Linked DNA regions of Homo sapiens: region 2 is linked to region 1. A link means that fine-mapping ties the variant in region 1 to the expression of a gene that starts in the linked region. Tissue or cell type: whole blood. Region 1 holds a variant in brackets; the other region holds the start of a gene. All regions are shown on one strand. Distances are between the middles of the regions.

Region 1 (8,854 bases):
GGAGGAATGGAATAAATTATGCAGTTTAGTTATTAATAATGTACTAACGTCCTTAGTTATGACGATTGTACCATGGTAATGTAAGATACTAACAATAGAGGAAACCGGGTAAGGAGTATACAGTAACTCTATACTATCTTTGCAACTTTTTTGTAAATTTAAAACTTCTAAAATAAAGAACAAATTTAAACATTAAAAAGTATCACCAGGAACATATATCACTGTTTACAGATGAAATACTATGTATTTTCATATCTAATTTCTGATCATTGACTTCAAATCAGAAAAGTGAATGACACCTCAAAATCAGGTTTTCTGTTTACTGAAGTCTAAGAAAAGAAAGCATACCAGCTGGAGAGATTCATGTTTATAAAGACAGATTTATAACAACAAAAATAAAATATCCAAGAATAAATTTAAGAAGAAGCACTTTACTGAGAAACATATGAAAACCTGAACAAATGGAGAGGGATATTTTGTATTTGAATAGAAAGACTTCTGGTTTAAAGATAATTCTCTTTAAATTATTTTTTGTAGAAATTTAAGGGGTACAAGAGCAGTGTTGTCACATGGATATATTACATAGTGGTGAAGTCTGGGGTTTTAGTGTAAATTAATCTTTACATTTTGTTTGAGCCCAATAAATGTACCAACATGATTTTTATAGAAAGATAGTCATTCCTATTAATCCAAACTTGTCCCAACTTTGAATTGAATTGAGGCAGAGCTAGCAGGTGTTCCCCACGGCTGAGGCATCTGAACATTAAGCATATCCCTCTGAGAACCAGCCTGCATTGATACTCTTTCTAATGTGGACAGCATCAAGCTATGTACGTAGTTCTGTGCTCAGCAAAAGCCCTGACTTCTTTTTGTTTATGTCCTAGCCCCATACAACAAAATCAACCAAAGAATTTTGGTTGTGGATCCAGTCACCTCTGAACATGAACTGACATGTCAGGCTGAGGGCTACCCCAAGGCCGAAGTCATCTGGACAAGCAGTGACCATCAAGTCCTGAGTGGTAAGACCACCACCACCAATTCCAAGAGAGAGGAGAAGCTTTTCAATGTGACCAGCACACTGAGAATCAACACAACAACTAATGAGATTTTCTACTGCACTTTTAGGAGATTAGATCCTGAGGAAAACCATACAGCTGAATTGGTCATCCCAGGTAATATTCTGAATGTGTCCATTAAAATATGTCTAACACTGTCCCCTAGCACCTAGCATGATGTCTGCCTATCATAGTCATTCAGTGATTGTTGAATAAATGAATGAATGAATAACACTATGTTTACAAAATATATCCTAATTCCTCACCTCCATTCATCCAAACCATATTGTTACTTAATAAACATTCAGCAGATATTTATGGAATATACCTTTTGTTCCATGCATTGTAGTACTCATTGGATACACATAGAATAATAAGACTCAGTTCACACTCTTCAGGAAACAGATAAAAAACTAAGAAACAAACAAAAAACAGGCAATCCAACACCATGTGGGAAATGCTTTCATAGCCGGGAAACCTGGGGAATACCTGAGAGGAATACTCAATTCAGGCCTTGTTTCAGGAATCCAAATCCTGGCACATCAGAGCTGCTTCCCTCTTTCCAGGGTGGCAGGAAATAAATGGAACATATTTTTCTATCTTATGCCAAACATGAGGGACCCTTTCTCCCCGGTGCCTCTCCCAAGGTAGTCTACAATATTTCAACTCTAGCAGTCTGCTTAGTGCATAGAACATGAGGCTGTGTGTCCCTGGGCAAATTACTAGACTTCTGTGTGCTTCACTTTCCCTGTAGGATTATAATCTACTGAGCAAGCTTATTGTAAGGGTCAGATTAGCAACAGTGTATGAAAATGATTTGAGACCATTGCCTGCACAAATTCAACTATTTTTTTTTATCTCACTACTCTACAGAAGTAGGTAGGGTGGGAGACAGAGTCTGATGAGAGGCTCAGAATGTGAAAGAAAGTGAGGCGAGTGAGCATGATATTTAATATAAACACAAAGATATTCTGAGAAGAGCTGCTCACTGCCCCCTCCCCCAATACATGTTGATAGGAAAATGCCACGTACTTCAGCAAAAACAACTGAAAAATTAGATAGAAAAGTCAATCAATAGGAAAAGATAATCCAGGACGGTGTTGTGAACAGAAAGAGGGGGAAAAAACTTTAGAAAATGATGGGGATGCTCTTACTGGGGTACGAGTCCTCAGGTATTGAACTGGCTTTCAGTAAAAGCTAGATTAGTGGGTTCCTGCCATTTACAAGCTGTTTTATGACAACTTACTTGTTGGGTGGCCTACAGTAACTCACCTAACTGCACTGAGTCTGTTTCCTCATCTGTAAATTGGGGATTTTTTTTTAAATACCTGGCATGCCTAACTCATAAAGTTGTTCTGAAACTGAAATAAAACATACGTGAACAGGCATTGTAAACTGTAAGTTACGGAAAAAGCTGGCTGTTGTTGTGTCTTTAAAGTTTCACCTGGGTAGTCAAAGATGGATCATGGGTCTCAGTGGAGAGCTGAGCCAGGCAGGAGCTGACTAAGGGTGAGAGGTGGGAGTTAGCAGCCTCTGAACATCTGTGTACCATGGGACCCCCTTTCCTCCTGCATGGTACCCCAGACAAGGAGCCTAGTAAGAGATACTAATGGCTTGTTGTCCAGAGATGTTCAAACTGCAGAGAAAGATAAGACAACAAGCATTGGCCTCCAATCATGATGACAGATAGGAGGAGGTGGGAGCTCCTTAGCAGTGCTGGTTGGCCTTCCATGTTCTACTGTGGGCCATCTCTGCCATGTACTGTAGGCTACTAGCTTCTATATTAAAGAATGCAAGAGGGGCCAGGAGCGGAGGCTCATGCCTGTAATCTCAGCACTTTGGGAGGCCAAGGTGGGCAGATCACTTGAGGTCAGGAGTTTGTGACCAGCCTGGCCAACATGGTGAAACTCTGCCTTTACTAAAAATATAAAAATTAGCTGGGTGTGGTGGTGTGCACCTGTAATCCCAGCTACTCGGGAGACTGAGGCACAAGAATTGCTTGAACCTGGGAGGCGGAAGTTGCAGTGAGCCCAGATTGCGCCACTGCACTCCACCCTGGGCAACAGAGAAAGACTCTGCCTCAAAAAAAAAAAAAAAAAGCAAGAGGAAGTGAAATAATCAAGGCCGCCATTTAATAGTGAGCAGCCACTCCATGTGGTACTGTGCAAGCACATTATAAATATTAGCCTCACAAGAAATGTATTAGCATTTGTATTTTGTACACTGGTTAAGTATCTTGCCCAAGACCTCAAAACTGGTTAAGGGCAGCAGAATTTAGCCCCAGCACCACCTTTTCAAAGCCTGGGCTTCTCACACTTCTCCATGCTGTTCCCATTTTAACACAGGTATCTCGCCATTCCAGCCACTCAAACTTTGGCATTTAAGAAAATTATCCTAAAGCTAAACTAAACTTCAAGGATGACCATTCTCCTGACCCCTTCCCATCAAAATTTTATCTTTAGTCAGTTTGTTTTCGTTTTGTTTTGTTTTTCAGAACTACCTCTGGCACATCCTCCAAATGAAAGGACTCACTTGGTAATTCTGGGAGCCATCTTATTATGCCTTGGTGTAGCACTGACATTCATCTTCCGTTTAAGAAAAGGTAGTATTTCCTTAATTGCAGTGGTCTCCACTGGGGGTGAGGAAGGGGTGAGAATTGGATCATGGCTGCAAGGAAACCCGACTTAACCTCTGCAAGGTGGTGCAAAGGCATTCCACTGTTCAACAGCAATTATATTGAAGCTGAGTGGGATCACTGGGTGAAGATGAAGCGTAAGGGGTGAGGGGCAGGAGAATGGGTATGGATGGAGGTAGAAGATGCAGTGTCATACAGTTTTTTTCTATCATGAAAATAACCACAGACTTACAGAAGAGAAAGAGCTAAAATGCCCGTCATTTTCAGTTGCATTTTAGTCTTGCATTAGTTGCAACCAGCTGGTTTCTGGGTACCCTAAGTAATAAAAATAGTTCCTCTGTAGAACTGTAGTATGTTTACCATAGAGTATTTTGCAAAATTTTTGGTAGAGGATGTTACATAATTTGCATGTGTTCATTTCTCCATTTACCTGTGGGAACAATTA[A/G]AATCCAGGAAAATGAGTATATTCAAATAATTTCCTCCCATTTAAGATGAGTCAGAGTAAATAATTCCTCCAATACTTAGAGAAGTATACCAAGAGATCCAGTGATGGTATAGAGTTGTCTGATGTTAAATAGGGAAGTAGAATATGGAAGGGGATTCCAATAGTCGTTGAAAAATTCCCCATAACCCCTTACATGGGGGAAAGTAGTGTTAACTGAGAGAGTAGAGATAAGCTGTTTCCAAAAATTATATTCTTAACAGGACTGAGATAGCCAGAATATAAGGATCAAGTTTCAATGACAGTAAGATCCTGAGATGGAGTTGATTTGCACAAAGAAATAATTGTTGCCAGCATGCATTTTGAATATTTCTCTGGAAAAAAAGATTAGTTGGCAGTAGAAATGGATAGAAATCAATAGATATTAAAATACCTCAGAATTTGGTTCATCTCTGGGAAAAGATGAAAAATAAAAGTGTATACTCCTCAAGAACATCTAGGATCAAAAGCATGTGCCCTACACTATTGAATTAATTAACCTCATAAGTTGGGACCTGTGGAATAAGGATGTCCACCAGACTTCCTAGGGATTACAAATGTTTCACAGAACTTGAAATTTAAACTTGGGTCACTGTATGGGATGTAGAGCTGTGCTATATGGAAATAAAAATGATTTCTTTTTCTCAAGGGAGAATGATGGATGTGAAAAAATGTGGCATCCAAGATACAAACTCAAAGAAGCAAAGTGGTAAGAATATCAGAAGGAATTGGGAAGTAAAAGTCAAAGGAAACAAAAAGCTAAAGCAATAACAAAGAGAAATCCATCAGTCATAATCTCCTCTCCTTTTAAAGAATGCTGGTTCCCCTTTGCCTCACAGCTAACACAAGAACTCCTCCACCGTCTGAGGAGGTTTAGGAGCAGGGAAGGGGAAGGAGTCAGCTTCATTTGCTAATCTTCTGTTGCCCTGCACCCTAGCAGCTCCTTGCAGCAGGGGACAAGGATGACTTAGGTGGATGGATAATTAATTGATTCTAAAATATTGTGTGTCAGTATTGTAATACTATGTTAATTGCACCATGCACGGTATCTCATTTAATCCCCCACCCCTTGCCATTACCAAAGAGAGAGAGAGAGAGAGAGAGAGAAATACTAGAATTTATCCTCATTTTACAGTAGAGAAAACAGAGGGTCAAGAAGATAATGTAAAGTGCCCAAGAACACACAGCTGATCACAAAAATCAAGCTTGGGGGCCATTAGCCTAACCACAGACCCTTACTCTTAACCCATCTGCTTCAATCCATTTTGCTACAAATGTTTACATTTATAAGCAGGGCAGAAAAACCTCATCCAGGTTATTGAACTAAGAAGAAAGTTATATTAAGGTTTCTAATTTTTTTAATGTAGTTAGAAACCAAACTTAACAATGAGCCCAAGTTTAAAGCAGTCTAATTAACCTGGACAAGCTCAGGCAAGTTTCATTCTGTGGCCCATAGCATCATCTGTGTTGTAAAGCTAAGTAGCAAATGTTGTTTGGGTCATGCTGGGGGACAAGCCATCCCAATTTGCTCAGGACTGAGGGGTTTTCCAGGATATCATGTAAGGATAATTGGGTACAAATATAACCTGCTGCTTTCTCTCATTTCAAATTTATCATTTATCATATCAGCAACTATGAGTTATGTTTTTTATTAGATTTCTTGTTACTTTTTCCCCAGACCACTTCCCATGAAATTAATATACTATTATCACTCTCCAGATACACATTTGGAGGAGACGTAATCCAGCATTGGAACTTCTGATCTTCAAGCAGGGATTCTCAACCTGTGGTTTAGGGGTTCATCGGGGCTGAGCGTGACAAGAGGAAGGAATGGGCCCGTGGGATGCAGGCAATGTGGGACTTAAAAGGCCCAAGCACTGAAAATGGAACCTGGCGAAAGCAGAGGAGGAGAATGAAGAAAGATGGAGTCAAACAGGGAGCCTGGAGGGAGACCTTGATACTTTCAAATGCCTGAGGGGCTCATCGACGCCTGTGACAGGGAGAAAGGATACTTCTGAACAAGGAGCCTCCAAGCAAATCATCCATTGCTCATCCTAGGAAGACGGGTTGAGAATCCCTAATTTGAGGGTCAGTTCCTGCAGAAGTGCCCTTTGCCTCCACTCAATGCCTCAATTTGTTTTCTGCATGACTGAGAGTCTCAGTGTTGGAACGGGACAGTATTTATGTATGAGTTTTTCCTATTTATTTTGAGTCTGTGAGGTCTTCTTGTCATGTGAGTGTGGTTGTGAATGATTTCTTTTGAAGATATATTGTAGTAGATGTTACAATTTTGTCGCCAAACTAAACTTGCTGCTTAATGATTTGCTCACATCTAGTAAAACATGGAGTATTTGTAAGGTGCTTGGTCTCCTCTATAACTACAAGTATACATTGGAAGCATAAAGATCAAACCGTTGGTTGCATAGGATGTCACCTTTATTTAACCCATTAATACTCTGGTTGACCTAATCTTATTCTCAGACCTCAAGTGTCTGTGCAGTATCTGTTCCATTTAAATATCAGCTTTACAATTATGTGGTAGCCTACACACATAATCTCATTTCATCGCTGTAACCACCCTGTTGTGATAACCACTATTATTTTACCCATCGTACAGCTGAGGAAGCAAACAGATTAAGTAACTTGCCCAAACCAGTAAATAGCAGACCTCAGACTGCCACCCACTGTCCTTTTATAATACAATTTACAGCTATATTTTACTTTAAGCAATTCTTTTATTCAAAAACCATTTATTAAGTGCCCTTGCAATATCAATCGCTGTGCCAGGCATTGAATCTACAGATGTGAGCAAGACAAAGTACCTGTCCTCAAGGAGCTCATAGTATAATGAGGAGATTAACAAGAAAATGTATTATTACAATTTAGTCCAGTGTCATAGCATAAGGATGATGCGAGGGGAAAACCCGAGCAGTGTTGCCAAGAGGAGGAAATAGGCCAATGTGGTCTGGGACGGTTGGATATACTTAAACATCTTAATAATCAGAGTAATTTTCATTTACAAAGAGAGGTCGGTACTTAAAATAACCCTGAAAAATAACACTGGAATTCCTTTTCTAGCATTATATTTATTCCTGATTTGCCTTTGCCATATAATCTAATGCTTGTTTATATAGTGTCTGGTATTGTTTAACAGTTCTGTCTTTTCTATTTAAATGCCACTAAATTTTAAATTCATACCTTTCCATGATTCAAAATTCAAAAGATCCCATGGGAGATGGTTGGAAAATCTCCACTTCATCCTCCAAGCCATTCAAGTTTCCTTTCCAGAAGCAACTGCTACTGCCTTTCATTCATATGTTCTTCTAAAGATAGTCTACATTTGGAAATGTATGTTAAAAGCACGTATTTTTAAAATTTTTTTCCTAAATAGTAACACATTGTATGTCTGCTGTGTACTTTGCTATTTTTATTTATTTTAGTGTTTCTTATATAGCAGATGGAATGAATTTGAAGTTCCCAGGGCTGAGGATCCATGCCTTCTTTGTTTCTAAGTTATCTTTCCCATAGCTTTTCATTATCTTTCATATGATCCAGTATATGTTAAATATGTCCTACATATACATTTAGACAACCACCATTTGTTAAGTATTTGCTCTAGGACAGAGTTTGGATTTGTTTATGTTTGCTCAAAAGGAGACCCATGGGCTCTCCAGGGTGCACTGAGTCAATCTAGTCCTAAAAAGCAATCTTATTATTAACTCTGTATGACAGAATCATGTCTGGAACTTTTGTTTTCTGCTTTCTGTCAAGTATAAACTTCACTTTGATGCTGTACTTGCAAAATCACATTTTCTTTCTGGAAATTCCGGCAGTGTACCTTGACTGCTAGCTACCCTGTGCCAGAAAAGCCTCATTCGTTGTGCTTGAACCCTTGAATGCCACCAGCTGTCATCACTACACAGCCCTCCTAAGAGGCTTCCTGGAGGTTTCGAGATTCAGATGCCCTGGGAGATCCCAGAGTTTCCTTTCCCTCTTGGCCATATTCTGGTGTCAATGACAAGGAGTACCTTGGCTTTGCCACATGTCAAGGCTGAAGAAACAGTGTCTCCAACAGAGCTCCTTGTGTTATCTGTTTGTACATGTGCATTTGTACAGTAATTGGTGTGACAGTGTTCTTTGTGTGAATTACAGGCAAGAATTGTGGCTGAGCAAGGCACATAGTCTACTCAGTCTATTCCTAAGTCCTAACTCCTCCTTGTGGTGTTGGATTTGTAAGGCACTTTATCCCTTTTGTCTCATGTTTCATCGTAAATGGCATAGGCAGAGATGATACCTAATTCTGCATTTGATTGTCACTTTTTGTACCTGCATTAATTTAATAAAATATTCTTATTTATTTTGTTACTTGGTACACCAGCATGTCCATTTTCTTGTTTATTTTGTGTTTAATAAAATGTTCAGTTTAACATCCCAGTGGAGAAAGTTACTTGGAATATTTGCAGCCTTGTTCCTAGTTCTTTTTTCATTGCTTATACAGCATGTTTTTATACAGCATGCTTTTGAATCCTGCACAATGAAAAAAGTATCAAAAGATTTTATTTTAAAAAAGAATGTATTGAAAATTTTCATTCTCTCTCATTCGGCAGCTTCCTTTAGGACCATACCAAGAAGAGTCAAAATCCTGTCATCTACATTGAAGATCTAAGGGAGAGAGGGTGGGAG
Region 2 (8,427 bases), 44 kb after region 1:
AGATGTAGAAAGGTTTTTTATAAAATTCAACATTTCTTTATGTTAAAAATGCTCAACAAACTAGGTATTGAAAGAACATGCCTCAAAATAAGAGCCAACTATGACGAACTCACAGCCAACATCATACTGAATAGGCAAAGGCTGGAAGCATTCCCCTTGAAAACCAGCACAAGACAAAAATGCCCTCTCTCACCACTCCTATTCAACATAGTATTGGAAGTCCTGGCCAGAGCACTCAGGCAAGAGAAAGAAAGAAAAGGCATCCAAATAGGAAGAAGGGAAGTTAAACAATCCCTGTTTGCAGATGACATGATTCTATATCTAGAAAACCCCTAGTCTCAGCCCAAATGCTCCTTAAGCTGATAAACAACTTCAGCAAAGTTTCAGGATACAAAATAAATGTACAAAAATCACTAGCATTCCTATACACCAGCAACAGCGAAGCCGAGAGCCAAATCAGGAACACAATTGCACTTGCAATTTCCACAAAAAAAAAAAAAATACCTACGAATACAGCTAAACAGGGAGGTGAAAGAGCTCTACAATGAGAATTACAAAATACTGCTAGAAGAAATTAGAGATTACACAAACAAATGGGAAAACATTCCATGCTCATGGATAGGAAGAATCAATATCATTAAAACGACCAAAGCGGTTTATAGATTCAATGCTGTTTCCACCAAACTACCAGTGATATTCTTCACTGAACTAGAAAAAAATATTTTAAAATTTATATGGAACCAACAAAGAGCCCAAATAGCCAAGGCAATCAAAGCAAAAAGAACAAAGCCAGAGGCATCATCCTACCAGACTTCAAACTATACTACAAGGGTACAGTAACCAAAACACCATGGTTCTGGTACAAAAACAGACACATAGACCAATGGAACAGAATAGAGAACCCAGAAATAAGGCTGCACACCTACAATTATCTGATCTTTGACAAAGCTGACAAAAACAAGCAATGGAGAAAGGACTTCCTACTCAATAAATGGGGCTGGGATAACTGGCTAGCCATATACAGAAGATGGAAACTAGACTCCTTCCTTACACCAGATACAGAAATCAACTTAAGATGGATTAACAACTTAAATGTAAAACCTAAAACTATAAAAAACCCTGGAAGACAATATAGGCAATACCATTCTGGACATAGAAGTGAGTGAAGATTTCATGACAAAGACACCAAAAGCAATTGCAACAAAAGCAAAAATTGACAAATGGGATCTAATTAAACTAAAGAGCTTCTACACAGCAACAGAAACTATCAACAAAGTAAACACACAACCTACAGAATGGGAGAAAAGTTTTGCAAACTATGCATCTGACAAAGGTCTAATATCCAGTATCTATAAGGAACTTAAACAAATTTACAAGAAGAAAACAAACAACCCAATTAAAAAGTGGGCAAAGGACATGAACAGGCGTTTTTCAAAAGAAGACATACACATGGCCAACAAGCATATAAAAAAGCTCAATATTACTTATCATTAAAGAAATGCAAATCCAAATCACAATGAGAGATCCTCTCACACCAGTCAGAATGGCTATTATTAAAAAGTTAATAAGTTGGCCGGGTGCGGTGGCTCACACCTGTAATCCCAGCACTTTGGAAGGCTGAGGCAGGTAGATCACAAGGTCAGGAGATCCAGACCATCCAGGCTAACATGGTGAAACCCCGTCTCTGCTAAAAATACAAAAAAATTAGCCGGGCGTGGTGGCGGGCGCCTGTAGTCCCAGCTACTCAGGAGGCTGAGGCAGGAGAATGGCATGAACCCAGGAGGTGGAGCTTGCAGTGAGCTGAGATCTCACCACTGTACTCCAGCCTGGAAGACAGAGTGAGACTCCATCTCAAAAAAAAAAAGTTAATAAACAACATGCTGACAAGGTTATGGAGAAAAGGGAATGCTTATACACTATTGGTGGAGTGTAAATTAGTTCAACCATTATGGAAAGCAGTGTGGCAATTCCTCAAAGAGCTAAAAACAGAACTACCATTCAATCCAGCAATCCCATTACTGGGTATATACCCAAAGAAATGTAAATCATTCTATCACAAAGACACATGCACACACATGTTCATCATAGCACTATTCACAATAGCAAAGACATGGAATCAACCTAAATGCCCATCAACGACAGACTGGATAAAGAAAATGTGGTACATATACACCAAGGAATACTATAGAGCCGTAAAAAAGAGCATGTCCTTTGCGGGAACATGGATGGAGCTGGAAGTCATTATGCTTAGCAAATTAATGCAGGAACAGAAAACCAAATACCACATGTGTTCACATATAAGTGGGAGCTAAGTGATAAGAACACATGGACACAAAGAGGGGAACAACACAAACTGGAGCCTAGCTGAGGGTGGAGGCCCCAGGGAGGAGGGAGATGAGCAAAAAAAAAAAAAAAAAAAAAAAAAAAAAAAAAAAAAATGACTGGGTTCTAGGCTTAGTATCTAGGGGACAAAATAATCTGTATGACAAACCTCCATGACACGAGTTTACCTATGTAAAATAAAAGTTTAACAAAAAACTAAAAAAGTTACCTATGTAAAACAAAAGTTTAACAAAAAACTAAAAAAAGTTACCTCCACCCAGAAATGCCTTTATTAACACTTTGGTTTGTAACCCTCCATTATTTTCTCTAGACATATAGATTTATGAGGCAGGCTAATGTGCTGAGACACTAGCTTGAGTTTCATTTGGCCTTGCTGTGAATATACCTGGGCCTTCCTTTGCTTCAGGATGCCCTAAACTGTGGCAAAGCAGAGCTGAACTGCCCAAAGGAAAGTGTGAAGAGGAGAGGCAGGCCAAGCCTGGAGAAAGGCTACCCAAGAGAGAGGAAAGGAAACTGTGGTGAGTGCACCTCACTCCTAAAGAAGGACAGGAACTCTGGTAGGTGAGGTGTGTTTTCCATAGATACTAAAACTCAAAGCCACACAGGGGACATATGTCCATTCCTCAGCCAGTCACTGTGGCCAGGAACAGAGGGTCAGGTAAGAGAATGGCAACTCCTAAGGAAACCACATGCCTGGAGCCGTGGGTGTAGAAGCAGATCCCCAGAGGAAGCACGGGTCCCACAGACACAGTCCCAACTCTTGCCGTCTAGGCAGCCACTCCCATCTGTAGGTACTACACAGCTTCGTAGTACTTCTTAAAGTACTTCTTGTTCAAGCGATGGGACGAAAAGAGGATGCAGGACAAGGAGGAGGAAAGGAGATCCTTGCTTTTGTAGAAGAAACAAGGAGGCAGGGAAGGCTTAGAGGACAGGCAAGGAGAGATGTTTTCTTAAAAACATCCTCTGTCTGAGTGTTCAGCCCCACATCTCTGCTGGTCCTACCCCTATAAGCACAAGGAAAAGGGCGGGAGGCAGCAGGAGAAGGATTGATCATTCAGGCCTATATTCAAGTTTGCCTTTTCTTGCCATGTGGTTTTAATCTCACCAATCACAAGCCTGAAGGTATAGTGGGGCCACTGAGGTCCGAGTTCAAATTCAGCCATGCAACTAAGGAAACATTGTTTGATCTTGGTCCTGTTTTCTCATGTGTAAAATGGGTCTAACTCTAAACCACACATTGCACTGAGAATGAAATGAGGCACTATGAAATGAAGTGAGGTTAGTTGAATAATGTTCCCCCCAAATTCATGTCTACTGAGGACCTCAGAATGTGACTATATTTGGAAGTAGGGTCTACGCAGATGTAGTCTAAATGAGGTCATACTGCATTAGGGTGGGCACTAATCAAACGGATGGTATCCTCATAAGAGGAGAGGAATGTAGAGATACACACAGAAAAGAATGTCATTTGAAGATGGAGGCAGAGATTGGAGTGATACAACTATAAGTCAGGGAATGCCAAGGACTTGAGGTCATGTGTTACAGAAGCCCTAGGAAATGAGTCAATTTCCTGGCACAGCACTAAGACATGCTGGTATTCTTCATTCCATCCCTTTCCCCTATTCCTAAATGTGCTCCAGGGACAATGGGGAAGCTGGAGCACATATAAGAATAGGGGAAAGAGAGGGAATAAAAGGGTATTAAAAACTCTCAAGGTATGTTAAAAAAAAGACTCTCAACAAACCAGGTATTGAAGGAACATACCTCAAAATAATAAGAGCCATCTATGATGAACCCACAGCCAACATCACACTGAATAGGCAAAAGCTGGAAGGATGCCCCTTGAAAACCGGCACAAGACAAGGCTGCCTTCTCTCACCACTCCTATTCACCATACTATTGGAAGTCCTGGCCAGAGCAATCAGGCAAGAGAAAGAAAGAAAAGGCATCCAAGAAGGAAGAGAGGAAGTCAAACTACCCATGTTTGCAGATGACATAATTTTATATCTAGAAAATCCCACAGTCTCAGCCCAAAAGCTCCTTAAGCTGATAAACTTCAGAAAGTTTCAGGATCCCACATGAACATACAAAAATCACTAGTATTCCTAAACACCAACCATAGCTAAGCCAAGAGCCAAATCAGGAATGCAATCCCATTCACAGACAAACTGCTAAAAGCAAAACCAAAACTTTCCAAATAAGCCAGGCTTTCGTCAGTTCCTCAGAACTAGTTCTGGTTTGACTCACTCTCATGTTACGGCAAACCTTAAGCTGAATGAACAACTTTTCTTCTCTTGAATATATCTTAACGCCAAATTTTGAGTGCTTTTTTGTTACCCATCCTCATATGTCCCAGCTAGAAAGAATCCTGGGTTGGAGCTACTGCATGTTGATTGTTTTGTTTTTCCTTTTGGCTGTTCATTTTGGTGGCTACTATAAGGAAATCTAACACAAACAGCAACTGTTTTTTGTTGTTTACTTTTGCATCTTTACTTGTGGAGCTGTGGCAAGTCCTCATGTGAGTAACGAGTGGGTTGAGATACTCTCATACTATTATGTTGTGGACCATGATGAGGCTGCCAGGGTGGGGGAAGGGTGGCCTACCTTCTCTCCACACCATTTGAGGCAAGAGACATTCTGCCTCAGAAATTGTGCTGAGGGGCACAAATAAGCTAATGTCCTCCTGCCCCAGATTTCTCTCACTTGTTCCTATGCATATTGTTCTTGTTGCTCAGTTTTATAAGGTGAGATATTTTCTGCACCAAATATGTGCACTGTAAAATAATATAACTATTCTTAAGATTGTCTCTCAGCTTAGAGTTTTCGGAGGCTTAATGGTGAAGAACTTAAAAATCTGTTTTCCTATGACTGACATCTGTTTGTGATTATCCATTTAGCAGACGGTGATCCCTCCAGGCTGGCCTTTGTTTACAAGCTATGCCTAAGAGGCAGCTGTTGGTGGAGGGGGAACAAAAACAAAAAACCCAAAACTATTATCTTAATAACTTATAGAGGTAATCATTATTGAACAAAAGCATGATTTGGGGACTATGGAAAGGCTTATTCTTTCCATATAAAATGATCAGCGAAAAGGTAGAAAAATTAAACAGAACTGAAATAATTGCTATTGATTGCTCACCGCCTGGATGCACTGAGTAGAAGAGCAAAGGCAATGGGTTCATGTGGAGGGGATGGAGGTGGAGAGGCTAAGCCTGAGTGAGATTACCAACTAATCAGGACTTTTAACCCAAAAATACTATGGCTCTGAGGGGCAGGGAATGAGAGACCTAAATTGACAAAATGCAGAGTAAAAATATTCAGTGTGAGCAGTAATGAGACAGTTGTATCAGGGTCAAATACGGAGTTGGCCTGGATGTCCTCCAAGCTCCTTTCCAAGCCTAAGATTCTGTGAGTGGATGAACAATCCTGGTCCTGCTGCTCTTGCCACTGGAACCTGATCTATTTGCCTTCATTATTTGAGGTCTCCCCATCATCAGGCTCTTTGTTGTCTGCTGCTTCAGGGTGTCTTCTCCCCAGATTTCTCCTGTTGGTGAGCTTTTCCATTGAACTGGAGCTCCTCACAGGCAAGAAGCACACCTTTAAGGTTCTCTGAGTCCCAAGTTCCTAGTGCAGTACCTGGCAATACACATAGGTGCTTAGTGGGTGCTTGCCGAATTGTTGAATGGATTTATTTGATGAAATGTCAGGAGAATCACCAGAAATGAAATGTTCGTGTAATGGACAGGGGGAAGTTTGAGGTTGATTTGAAAAAGGAGATGGTAGAGACAGTATTATGGGTCATGCTTCAGAGTTTATTTGCTTTACAATACATTGGACAGCAACCAGTAGATTGTTGTGTGTCATTTTAATTCCACATGCTAATGTCCAAATATGTCATATGTCTTAATTGTTGCATACGTGGGTTACTCTGTAAAGGGGCAACTGTAGTATCACCTCCTCATGCCACACCCTGCTCCACTGTAGCTGGGCTCGATAACCTTCAAATCAACTCACAGAATTCCAGGACAGACAAGAGCATCTGAAAGGTTATCTAGCCCCAGTCACCTCTGATGCCTTCCAGCTGTCTCTAACACACCTGTGGGCTGACTTCCAGTTCTTAGTCTTCACGGCTCCCTATGATGAACTGCCCCTGCTTTGAGGGATTTTCCTCCATTGCCTCAGAAGTACTGCCCTGGGGGAGCTTCTGATGCTCTTCTGACCACCTTGTCTCTGCCTTTTTCACTAGTCCTCTGTTCCTGCTCTCCAAATTTTGGGACGTTCCTGAGTTCAGATCTTTTCTTTATAATCTTTCTTTTATATTCTCCCCATCAGATGGTTCATTCATTCCTCAATATTAACTAACATTTCCATATTAGAAATAACTTCCTTATCTTTAGCCCTAAATTTTGTCCCAAACTCTGGACCTACAATTTTTTGGAATGCTTATGCCTTGCCCAGACTAAAACCAAACTTACTGTCTTCCCTCTAAAATCAGCTCCCCATCTTCTATTTCTCCCTGCCACCCTTCCTCCCCCATGGCTCCAATATTGTCTTGCCAGTCTGGTCTTAAAACCACAGTCAATCTTGTTGCTTTTCTCTTTGTCTCTTGTGCATGGCTGATCAGCAGTCAATTGTTTTGTCAATTGTCTTATATGTTTCTTCTTCCTCTTCCTTGCTTCCTTTTTCTGACCTGAAGTTAGGGCCTTGTTACCAAACATCTAGATGAATACAGTGACCCCCTAATTGAGAGGCTGTCTACCAATTCCACCCACCCTCAATTCTATACTCAAAAAAAAAATTAGATGTAATCTTTTTCAGATACTCCTTTGGTATTGTCACTTAGTTTTTGAGTGACTGCCACTATTTCCCGATTGGCAGCTCTGCCTGGCATTAAGCTCTTGACATTCTCAACCTAAGTGTCCAGCCAAGTTACTCTGTTCATTGTCCCCTCAACACGCCTGTGCATTTGCACCTCTGAGACTGCTTCTGAGTCAGCTATGCACTGCCCTTTAGAATAGCTTCAACCCCAAATCCTACCAGTGCTTCAAAGGCCCAGTTCAAATCCTACCCCTCTGGGAAGTCTCCCTTCCTTTAGTCAACTTCTAGGGCTTTTGCAATTTTATCACTTGTTTTACATCAGTTTTACTATTTTTCATGTGTGAGAGTTTTAACCTTCCAATTATGGTACAATGTCTTTAAGGGCAAGGGCCCTTTCTTAGAGGAAACCCTCTATGAATTCTCCAATGATAAATTATTCTATGAATTCTCACAACTTTCTAATATAAAGGCTTATAAAAAGTGGGAACTCACTGTTTATTGCTTAAAAAATTGAGATTTAATTTGAACTTAAATGCTCTATTAAATTGAGTAGAATAGCATCTTAAGGCTACTGGTAGTCTATCTATGCCACAGATGGTTTAGAGATCAAATAATTACTCATATACCTATGACAGCAGAGTACTGGCTGTAAGATCCCCCCAAAACTCAAATACCTATTGGGTTTGTCAGGCAACAAAAATAAGTGAATCCAGCTAGGTCTAATACAATGGAAAATGGTAGGACCTGGGGCAAACTCTGCATAACTTGCCCAAAGGCATTCAAATTCAGATTATGTTCAGACATTGCTAATTACAATTAGTGTCTTAGACACTTGGCTTCAAAACAGTGGTTAGTTCAGGTATTTCAGATCAATTGGGTATGCATTTATCTAGGTCTTCATGGATAGCCGGGCTCTACTAGACACTGGGAGAGGGAAGAGGCAAATGGGATAAGACTGGCAGTATTTAACAAAGAATGAAGTATTTTACAAACATGATCCTTTAGGCTGGTTATTGTTACACAAAGGAATGATTTGCTAGGATTCTTGAGATACTTCCATAGAATGTCTATGCCTCACTTATTGCACAGACCAGAGAATTCCATAAAAGCACTGGCTGTGTCTTATTTACCCTTGTATACTAGAGCTTGGCACATAGTAAATACCAAGTAAATGTTTTGAATAAAAGAAAGAGATAATTAAAGCTTCAGCACCACAATTATTTGTATTTCATCTATCAGTTTGGAAATAGATCTCCACAGACAGTA

Evidence for each region. PIP is the estimated chance that this variant, and not a neighbour inherited with it, causes the effect.
Region 2: PDCD1LG2 starts here. The variant in region 1 is fine-mapped to the expression of PDCD1LG2 in whole blood (TOPMed, PIP above 0.99).

Annotation. Positions count from the first base shown.
Region 1 is chr9:5,461,950-5,470,803 of GRCh38, forward strand. It overlaps CD274 (CD274 molecule), which reads left to right. Exons shown (of 7, transcript NM_014143.4): 4 at 885-1,172; 5 at 3,550-3,657; 6 at 4,821-4,880; 7 at 5,891-8,605. The coding sequence ends at 5,913. The region is part of intron 2 of INCR1 (interferon stimulated noncoding RNA 1); the gene reads right to left. Among named protein-coding and RNA genes, the nearest start is that of CD274, 16 kb to the left of the region's middle. The variant A/G (reference allele first, on the strand shown) is at 4,136.
Region 2 is chr9:5,505,943-5,514,369 of GRCh38, forward strand. It overlaps PDCD1LG2 (programmed cell death 1 ligand 2), which reads left to right and starts at 4,589. Exons shown (of 7, transcript NM_025239.4): 1 at 4,589-4,861. All of the region lies in intron 2 of INCR1 (interferon stimulated noncoding RNA 1), which reads right to left. RefSeq lists enhancers at 3,137-4,336, 4,278-4,357, 4,418-4,477, 4,638-4,687.